3 separate regions of the Homo sapiens genome follow, and regions 2 and 3 are each reported to be linked to region 1. Evidence: microRNA targets listed by miRTarBase, many of them from high-throughput screens and not tested one by one. Region 1 holds a microRNA gene; each other region holds the end of a gene's coding sequence.
What was found. Region 1 holds the annotated microRNA hsa-miR-5585-5p (UGAAGUACCAGCUACUCGAGAG, at 2,372-2,393, shown strand). A microRNA usually pairs through its seed, bases 2 to 8, with sites in the 3' UTR of a target mRNA and lowers its output. Matches are read on the target gene's strand: a 7mer-m8 pairs with bases 2 to 8, a 7mer-A1 pairs with bases 2 to 7 and ends in A, and an 8mer does both.

Region 2: miRTarBase lists MED13 as a target of hsa-miR-5585-5p. Seed matches in the 3' UTR shown: 7mer-A1 at 2,986-2,992 and 7mer-A1 at 1,346-1,352.
Region 3: miRTarBase lists TRIQK as a target of hsa-miR-5585-5p. The part of its 3' UTR that is shown has no 7-base or 8-base seed match.

The regions. Positions count from the first base shown.
Region 1 is chr1:32,084,578-32,087,841 of GRCh38, forward strand. It overlaps MIR5585 (microRNA 5585), which reads left to right and starts at 2,372; the gene lies at 2,372-2,430. The region is part of intron 5 of TMEM39B (transmembrane protein 39B); the gene reads left to right.
Region 2 is chr17:61,943,359-61,946,622 of GRCh38, forward strand. MED13 (mediator complex subunit 13) reads right to left here. Exons shown (of 30, transcript NM_005121.3): 30 at 1-3,242. The coding sequence ends at 3,110. Among named protein-coding and RNA genes, the nearest start is that of INTS2, 17 kb to the left of the region's middle.
Region 3 is chr8:92,884,196-92,887,459 of GRCh38, reverse strand. TRIQK (triple QxxK/R motif containing) reads left to right here. Exons shown (of 5, transcript NM_001171797.2): 5 at 725-3,264. The coding sequence ends at 838. Among named protein-coding and RNA genes, the nearest start is that of TRIQK, 80 kb to the left of the region's middle.

The DNA.
Region 1 (3,264 bases):
TTTTATTTTTGAGACAGAGTCTCGCTCTGTCGCCCAGGGTGGAGTGCAATGACACGATCTCAGCTCACTGCAACCTCCGCCTCCCGAGTTCAAGTGATTCTCCTGCCTCAGCCTCCTGAGTAGCTGGGATTACAGGCACGCCACCATGCCCAGCTAATTTTTGTATTTTTAGTAGAGACGGGGTTTCACCATGTTGGTCAGGCTGGTCTCAAACTCCTGACCTCGTGACCCACCCACCTCAGCCTCCCAAAGTGCTGGGATTACAGGTGTGAGCCATCGCACCCAGTCTCAGTGTAGATTTCTAAGTTCAAATTCACATTCTCAGAACTTTTGCAGTTATTATTCCATTGTCTCTAGTATCCAGTGTTGCTAGTGAGAAGTCTGGTGCCAGTTTGAGTTTGATTCCAATTCTTTTATAGATGACTTGTATTTTCCTTTCTGAAAGCATTGAGGAATATTCTGTTTATCTTTTGATTACTTGAAATTTCAAAGGATGTGTCTGTTGTGGGACGTTTGTCATTCATCCTTTCAGGACTCTAGGACTTTTTTAACCTGGAGATTTGAGTACTTCTTTAGCTTGGGGAAATTTTCCTTTGATATTTCTTTGATAATATCTTCCTTTTAATTTTTTCTATTATCTCTGGATTTCTGTTCATCAGATGGTAGACCTCATAGATTGGTCATCTTTTTCTCCTATATTTCTCTAATATTTAATCTCTCTCTCTCTCTCTCTTTGTATGTGCATTGCCTTTGGAGAGATTTCCTCAACTTTATCTTCTAGCTTTTTTACTGAGATTTTTTCAGCAATCATATTTTTCATCTCTAAGGCCTCTATGTTTGCTGATTGTTCTTTTCTCATAGCATACTATTCTTGTTTTAAAAATCTCTTATTTGGCTGGGCGTGGTGGCTCACGCCAGTAATCCCTGCACTTTGGGAGGCCAAGGTGGGTGGATCACAAGGTCAGGAGTTCAAGACCAGCCTGGCCAACATGGTGAAACCCTGTCTCTACTAAAAATACAAAAATTAGCTGGGTGTGGTGGTGCATGCCTGTAATCTCAGCTACTCGGGAGACTGAGGCAGGAGAATTGCTTGAACCCGGGAGGTGGAGGTTGCAGTGAGCTGAGATTGCGCCACTGCACTCCAGCCTGGGCAACAGAGCGAGACTCTGTCTCAAAAAAAAAAAAAAAATTCCCTTATTTTCCTCAATTTTGTCTTTTCACTGGGGTCAATTTTTCTGTTTCATGCTGCTTGTTTTCCAAGTATAGTTGGCTTGTTTGCTTGTCTCTTTATATGTAAAAATGAAGGACTGAGTAGCAGGAGTGCAGTTTCTTTCTCTCTGTCATTGTTTAAGGGGGTAAGAGCTTTGACTGGAAACTTTAAGTACATGGGCAGGGCACACTGACTGGCAGGCTTTGCTTTGAGGATGAGTGAGTGAAGTGCTGGTTGTTAGGCTTTGAGCCTCCGTAGGCCAGAAAGGGAGTGGTGGGGGTGTTACTCTAAGATATCGCCATTAGAGACCTCAATTCTCAGTTTACTCAATTTCTTTAGAAAAGAATCCTTCAGGGTGTGTTGTATGAGGTGAGTAGGGGAATAAAGGGACTGACTCTTATAAATAAACATAGGTCATTGTTTAATCCCATTTATTCATACCTGCTCCCCACTTCATCTTCTATCATATGTGCCCACTTCAAGGCAGAGTCTCTCTTGGGTCACTCTGGGTAGATAAGCTCCCACCTCCAGTCCAGTTCGCTCATGCCATATTCTAGACTTGTACCGTCCAGTTGAGTAGCTACTAGCCCCCCTGGTTATTGAGCACATGAAATAGGGTAGTCTGAGTTGAGATGTGCTCTAAGTGTAAAATACACACCGATTCTGAACCCTTAGTACACACACAAAAAAGAAAGTAGGCTGGGCATGGTGGCCCATGCCTGTAATCCCAGCACTTTGAGAGACTGAGGCAGGCGGATGGCTTGAGCTCAGGAGTTTGAGACCAGCCTGGGCAACTTGGCAAAATGCCATCTCTACCAAAAATACAAAAATTAGCTGGGCATGGTAGCCTGCACCTGTAGTCCCAGCTACTTTGGAGGCTGAGGTGGGAGGATGGCTTGAGCCTGGGAGGTGGAGGTTGCAATAAACTGAGATTGCACCACTGCACTCTAGCCTGGGAAACAGAGCCAGGCCCTGTCTCAAAAAAAAAAAAAGAGAGAGAAACTGAGGCTGGGCACAGTGGCTCACACCTGTAATCCCAACACTTTGGGAGGCCAAGGCAGGGTGGATCAGGCCCAGGAGCTTGAGACCAGTCTGGGCAACATGGCAGAACCCTGTCTCTACAGAAAATATAAAAATTAGTTGGGCATGGTGGCACGCACCTGAAGTACCAGCTACTCGAGAGGTCAGAGGATTGCTCCTGAATAGCTGGGACTACAGGTGTGTGCCAGCACCTGAGCCTAGGAGGTAGAGGCTGCAGTGAGCCATGATTATGCCACTGCCCTCCAGCAGCCTGCGCAACACAGCAAGACCCTGTCTTAATTAAAAAAAAGAAAGTAAAACATCTCAAAATATTCATTATATGTTGAAGTGATAGTATTTGCATGTATTGGGTTAAGTAAAATAGAATCTTAAAATTAATTTCAGGAGGCTGATGCAGGAGAATCTCTTGAACCCGGGAGGGGGAGGTTGCAGTGAGCCGAGAATGCACGACTGTACTCCAGTCTGGGGCACAGAGTGAGACTCCGTCTCACAAAAAAAAAAAAAAAAAAAAAAGGCCGGGTGCGGTGGCTCACACCTGTAATCCCAGCACTTTGGGAGGCCAAAGCGAGCGGATCACCTGAGGTCAGGAGTTCGAGACCAGCCTGACCAACATGGAAAAACCCCGTCTCTACTAAAAACACAAAATTAGCCAGGCGTGGTGGTGCATGCTTGTAATCCCAGCTACTAGGGAGGCTGAGGCAGGAGAATCGCTTGAACCTGGGAGGCAGAGGTTGCAGTGAGCCGAGATCATGCCACTGCACTCCAACCTGGGCGACAAGAGTGAAACTGTCTCAAAATAATAATAATAATAATTTCATCTCTCTTTTTTTTTTTCTTTTTTTTTTGAGACGGAGTCTGTCACCCAGGCTGGAGTGCAGTGGCACAATCTCTGCTCACTGCAAGCTCCGCCACCCAGGTTCACACCATTCTCCTGCCTCAGCCTCCCGAGTAGCTGGGACTACAGGCGCCTGCCACCACGCCCGGCTAATTTTTTGTATTTTTAGTAGAGACGG
Region 2 (3,264 bases), not on the chromosome of region 1:
CAACATAGTATTCTGATATTACAGTATTAACATAGTGCTTGATTAAAGATCTGCAAATCTTTGTAGTAACACATTAAGTTAAAAAATTACCTCAGAAGGTAAATATGAAGACGAAAGGAGAATATTTTAATACAGTAATCTGTGCCATACTGACAATTGAGTACGAATACAGCTGAGGATAGTTGACTAAGTAGTAAGAGCTTAATTTTAGTGGTTTAAGAAAAGTTTAGAAATATTTAAAAATTACAGCTACTTTAAAATTTAAGGATTACATATAAGTACACTTGGTGGCCTTCTGGCCAAACAATAAGGTGTACAGAAATTTATTCATACAGTGTTAATTCACAGTCCTGATAACTCAATGGCTTGCATAAGAAAGGTATGGCTAGATGTTTCTCACTGGCTGGAAGCAGACATTATATAACTAATCTTTTTAAATGACAAAATACTGAACTTCCACCCTGCTTAATAATCATGGATACCTGCACAAAAAAAAAGATGTTAGCACTGTAACAAAGAAGTCAAGGTGTTGGTAATCCACTGCTATAAAGTATAATATTTTGCTTACCTATTTAAACAAAACTACCCATATTTGTCTGTGACAGTACATTAGTAAGTCAAATCCATCATCCTGCACAAGGCTTAATTTCTCAAATAAGTCTACTGAGCTTTTCTAATGGTTATTTAATAACTTTCCATTGAGTTTGAATGGATATATGAAGGGAAGAAAAAAAATCTTATCAATAAATCCTGTATATTTGGGAACTATTCCCTGATTCCCAAATAAAAAATAATTGTGTACTGGGTTCCCTCCTTATGGCTCCATATTAAATAACCTGTCAGGGAATAATTTTAAATCTACTTTCAAATTGAGGTGTGGTTATCATAGGTTAGTGATTTTAAACAACTGAGAATATAACTTTTATTTTGTAAAGTCACTATTAAGTGTATAAAAAGGATACTCTTTTTATGGAAATTCCAAATAAGCACATTTTCCTTCAAATCTCAGACAAGTTTTTTTTTTTTTTTTAAAGAAAGTACAGAACAAAACATACCAACATAATGTGTGGTGTATTAGCATAATTTAAAAACAAATGCAGAGAGGTGATCTTTAAATTTAATATCAAAATATGCTGACCATTAGAACTGCATTATAATTTTGAAGAAATGATTGACAACCTTTGTCACCAATTGTGTTTGCTTCATAGAAAAAACAAGACTTGCTAATGTTTTCATATACACAATCTGAAGAAGTTATGTTGTTCATAAGAAAGTGATATTTAATTCTAAGCACAGAGTATTCACAAAAACAAGTTTCAGTAAAAAAAAAAACTAAAACAAACACTGAAGTAGAGTTTTGTAAATACAACTGATTTTGTCCTTGTAGATAATTAGTGAACGTACAAATAGAAATTTTGCTAGACTGCTTCCAAGAAAGCTAGGTAGACTCGGCGACTGTGAATTCAAGTCAGCAATGCAGGTAGGAGGCGAACTTGGGCTCTTTTGTGAGCAGCACTGTAGAAAGGATTTTTCAAGGGGGTACAGCCTGCATAAAAGCAGTTATCTTGGCATGTGCAAACAAGAAGGGGGAAAGTTGTATTGAAGGAGGGGTGAATTAAAGTCCCTAAAATTCAAGTCCCTTCTTTAGGGAGGTGAGAACCTCCTTGGCATATGCCCTACCTTAATCTGAGCTGTGTTATAGAAAAGTACAGACTCTGGTGTTTGGGACTGACATCTCCAAACCAAGAAAATTAAATAAATAAAAAAGGCAAGGGAAGTTTAAAAAATGGTTCTTTCACTAGTGGAATAGAGTCTGAATACCAGAATTCACTGAGAATCTATTTACACCACAGTTTGATTGCGCGCACACACACACACCCATACATATGCATACTCTCACATACATTCCCAATCTTTAATTTAAAAAAAAAAGTCAAACAATCAAGAATGACTGCTTGAAAAATAATTTGTAAAATGCCTAGAGCTGGGCTAAATTTCAACCTTATAGCAGATCCTGAAAATAAATTTCATAATAATATTTCCATGCCTAAATATGCCACTGTTAAAACTGAAAAAAATTTAAGCATGTAACATTAAACACTAAAATTAGTTTAAGCATTCAGTAGCAAATGGTTTTTCTTGTAAAACTAAGTTTCTTTCACCGGAAATGGCCTGAAATATTAGTCATAGCCCTAAACCATAGTACAAAATATAACTGAAGAATTCTCATTTTATTCTAAGTTAAACCACCTAACAATACCACTTGTATATTGCCATCATGTTATTCTGTAAAGATGTGATATATAAAATGCTGTAAGACCTGGTACCTTTTCAATTTATAAACACAGTGAACTTCATTACTGTACATGTACTCTGCAACTACAGCTTAGCTGTAAATCCTCCACACACAATGGTATGGACATTATTCCCCCTCTATCCCCGTTAAACTGTACATCGAGACAATACAAATTTACTGTCCCACCCACCCCCTTACAAAAAAATAATACTCTAAAAGCAACCCTACTGCAACTTTTTAATTAAGACGATTACATATATTTTAGACCAATTGCTTTAAAGCAAGAAGGCAGTATAAACCTTCTAGGAAAATTTTTATAAAAGAGGTTAAGAAATATAAGACAATTTATACATTTAAAAACTTACAATAAATAAGAGAAGAGATGCAGGCATTTTTGAATACTAGATACTATAATCCATACAAGAACATCTTCATGTTCTGAAGCCATATGTTGAAATTCATTGTTCCTCATGTTTCCTCTCCATGCTTTTAATATTCATTTAACATGACTGGGTACTATGGCTCATTACTTTTCACAAATACTGTGACTGGAAAAAAAAAAGGTTAATTTTGCTACGAAAATGTTATAATACGTTTTGTATGATCAGTCATCATCCTAAAGAGTTCAATAGAGTCAATGAAAAATAGCAGGGTTATAGCCCCTCCCCCCAAGTCAAAACAATATTTGTTGAAGTAATAAGAATTAGACCCCATCACAAATGACCTTCACTGAGAAGATAATTGTAACTTAATCCTGCAGCGAAACATCCATTTTTCCTTGTTCTTTTCTTGCACAGTTCCATCAAATGAAGATCACAGCATATTCATAATAAAGTTATATAACTGATTCAGCACCACAAAATGAATTGGGAGACATGAGCGTCTGTCCTGGGTTGCAGGGTCACAGGTTAGCCAGGAGAGTGCATTGTACTGTTCCAAAACAAACCTGAAAAGCAAATAAACTGCAT
Region 3 (3,264 bases), not on the chromosome of region 1:
ATATGAGTAAATTTTTTATCATTATTACAATATAGTTGATTAATTTAATCCACATCACATCACAAATGAAAAATCTGGGCCCATCCTTCAAAACTGTGATAAATGTATTGTATTATGCTTCATGAGTGAAGAGTACTTTGTTTTGTTCCTCTGCAGTGTAAACTATAGACTTTAGGATTTAAAAATTAGAGTTTCAACAAAGTCACATTTAATGAGTATGTATACATCTATATATAATCTAGAGACCAGTTACAACTGTTTCTTTACAATGAAAAGGAATGATAATTAAAAAAAAAACTGTGCCCAAATGCTATCATTAATACTGAATGTATTGAAGCCACAAATAAAGTTAAACACACTCAAATAGAAAACAGATCAACTGTGTAGATACAAACTGCATTGCTTGTATCGAACATCCTGATATCCAAACTATAAAAATATATTAAAATGATACATTTTTAATATTACTATAAGGAAAAAACAAATTAGCTAGAAATAATAATACTAATGACTCACCCACTGGTGTATTTGCCATTTCATTGGGACTTGCCAGTACAAAACAGTTTCTTAACGGCAAAAAATGGTAAACAAAAAGGATATGATTATTAGGTTCAAATTATTCATTCTAGACTGTGGAACAATATGGTTATTTTATCTGGTGAAACTAATAATGTTAACCAATCTTTTTTCATCAATTTCAAGTCTACTTTTTTTTTCTTCCCAGGAAGTTGGCCTTGTACTTGCAGCTATATTGGCACTACTACTGGCTTTCTATGCTTTCTTTTATCTCAGACTCACCACGGATGTTGACCCTGATCTGGACCAAGATGAAGATTAGCTAAGCAACAATCAATGCATGAAAGAGAAATAACTTTACGAAAGCACCTTTTGGGACCAAAACTTTCAATACTGAAACTGTAACATCTTTAATTCTTTCTGCTAATATTTTCAGTTTGCAGACATATGATTTTTGATAGTTGCATAGGATGTCAGGAAAAGAACCTTACCTAGCAATGCAGTATAGTATGTGCTACTGGATACTTTTATATATCTTTCTGCTTTGACAGCCACCCTATACATGGTACATTTAGATGAAATGGGAACCAGATCCTAAATTTTTCAAATGTCATTGCCAATTTATGTGTATAATTCCATCACTTCCTGATGAGTAAGTCTATTTTTGTTCTATATACATCATAAGTTAGTATATATTCTTATTTACAGAAACATGCTCAAATCACATTCAGAAAGAACAAAAAGTCATGGGAAATTTTTTATTTTACAACAAAGCCCTGCTTTCTTTCTGGACGTATTTTACATCATTAGAGAGACTATCTGCACATACATCTACCATAATCTTTTTCCTTCTTTGCCAACTGTTCAGTGCACATGTGCTGCATCAGAAATGGCACCTGGATGACAGAAGCTCAAAGAGTCACATATGTCTCTAAAATAGAGTTCTTTTCCTCTTGGGCTGTCTGAACTGGTGTAAATAGAAGCTCAGTTGATCTTGGTTTTAATTAACTTATTACTCTATTAATATAACCTTGGAATTCTATTCTAATTATGTTGTTCTGGCTGCTTGTAGTATCAGTTCGCCCCTCTTGTTAGGGAGATATGTAACAATCTGTCATTTAATTGAGCAGTCTTTTTCACATAACAGTAATAGCAAAAATCCTACCTACTCAGAATCATCTTCTTAGGTTGTCTCCTAAATCTGAACAATACAGTTGTTTTATAAAATTACATTTTGTCTCTTGAGATTTAATCAATTAGAACTCTTTAGGGAGAAAATAAATAATAGAAGAAAATATATGCCTCATATTTCATATGTAATTATCTGTTGATATAATTTTTCAATGTATTTTGTATTTGTGGGAGCATAATGACCTGTACATTCAATATTTTTACTGGTAATTCAATTTTTAAATATGTTTTTACAATGCTTGAACACATAAACCTTAGAAAACTGGAAAATACGTGTCCACAGAAAGAGTTATTAGCTACTACCTTATGTAAAGATGCATAGAAAATGAAATTGTTGGAAACATGTGCACAAAGTGTTTTATATTATATACATTGTATTTATGAAGAATAAATAAAATATTAAGATTGTTTTCCTGCTAGCCAAGAGAAGAAATCCTTGGGAAATATCTAAGGAGTATATGGGGCTTTATAAGCACTGTTTCTAAAAGATATTCTCTGGTACTTTTGCAAAAAGTCGACTGTGACTGTGTAGCATTATGTTCTGTAGAATTTTTTTCAAGTAGCATAATTTATTTCATTGGTGTGAAAACAGCCAAAGGTTCCAATATCCTCACAAATCATTTATGCCAAACATCTGAGGGCAAAATTTAGCCGGTGTTATTTACTAGATTCTTCCCTTTGAACTCACAGACTCAAGAGACAGACCAAGAGTTCTTATATACTCACCACAGCGGACCAATCCAAGTGGCATTTTTAGGAAAGGTTGCAGCATTTAATGCCATGTGGTATGTCTGTTCGTCAAGTGGGTGGCAAGGGAATATCCAAGCTGGCATTTTGGATATGATGGGCCTTTTACTTTCCTGAGTGACATGCCACATGTCAAGAAATACTGCTCCCCACCCCCCCACTCCCATCACATTTACGTGAACAATTTTCATTTAGTTATTTCCCGTTCCATATGGTGTTAAAACAGTCGTATTAAATAAAGATTATTTCTAGTTTTCAGTGGTAATTTAAATGAGAGGATATGTAATAATTGCTTATTAGATACTTATCCAAATGAAATATAACAGAGTTTACAGTACTTAAAATGGCTGGTTATGGTCTTGGAAATGTTTGAAAATTCATTATCCTGAAAAAAACTTTACCATTCTGTTTTACCCTTGAGGTATTTTTTGGGGAAAAATGTTTTTGATAACTATTAATCTAAATATAGTATAATTATAGGCAAATTTCACTGCCTAGTTTTATTGATATCCTGAGTCTACAGCTAGTCCATTCGTATGACTGATTGATTTATGATAGCTCCAGAGAACCATAAATTTCAAAGGCTAAACTCTCTGATTTTAGTAAATAGTAGGTAAAGTGACACAATATATGTTTACACAACACTGTTTTCATGAAATGCAAACTTTGCAAAACTCACATTAACTGGGAAGCAGCCAACCCTCTGTAGAGAAATCCCAGATTGGGAGTCTGGTTTGAATCTTTGAAGACAGAAAGGTGATATCCGGCCTGCTGTTTTAAAGGGACCACACTTTTGAATACCTACTGGTG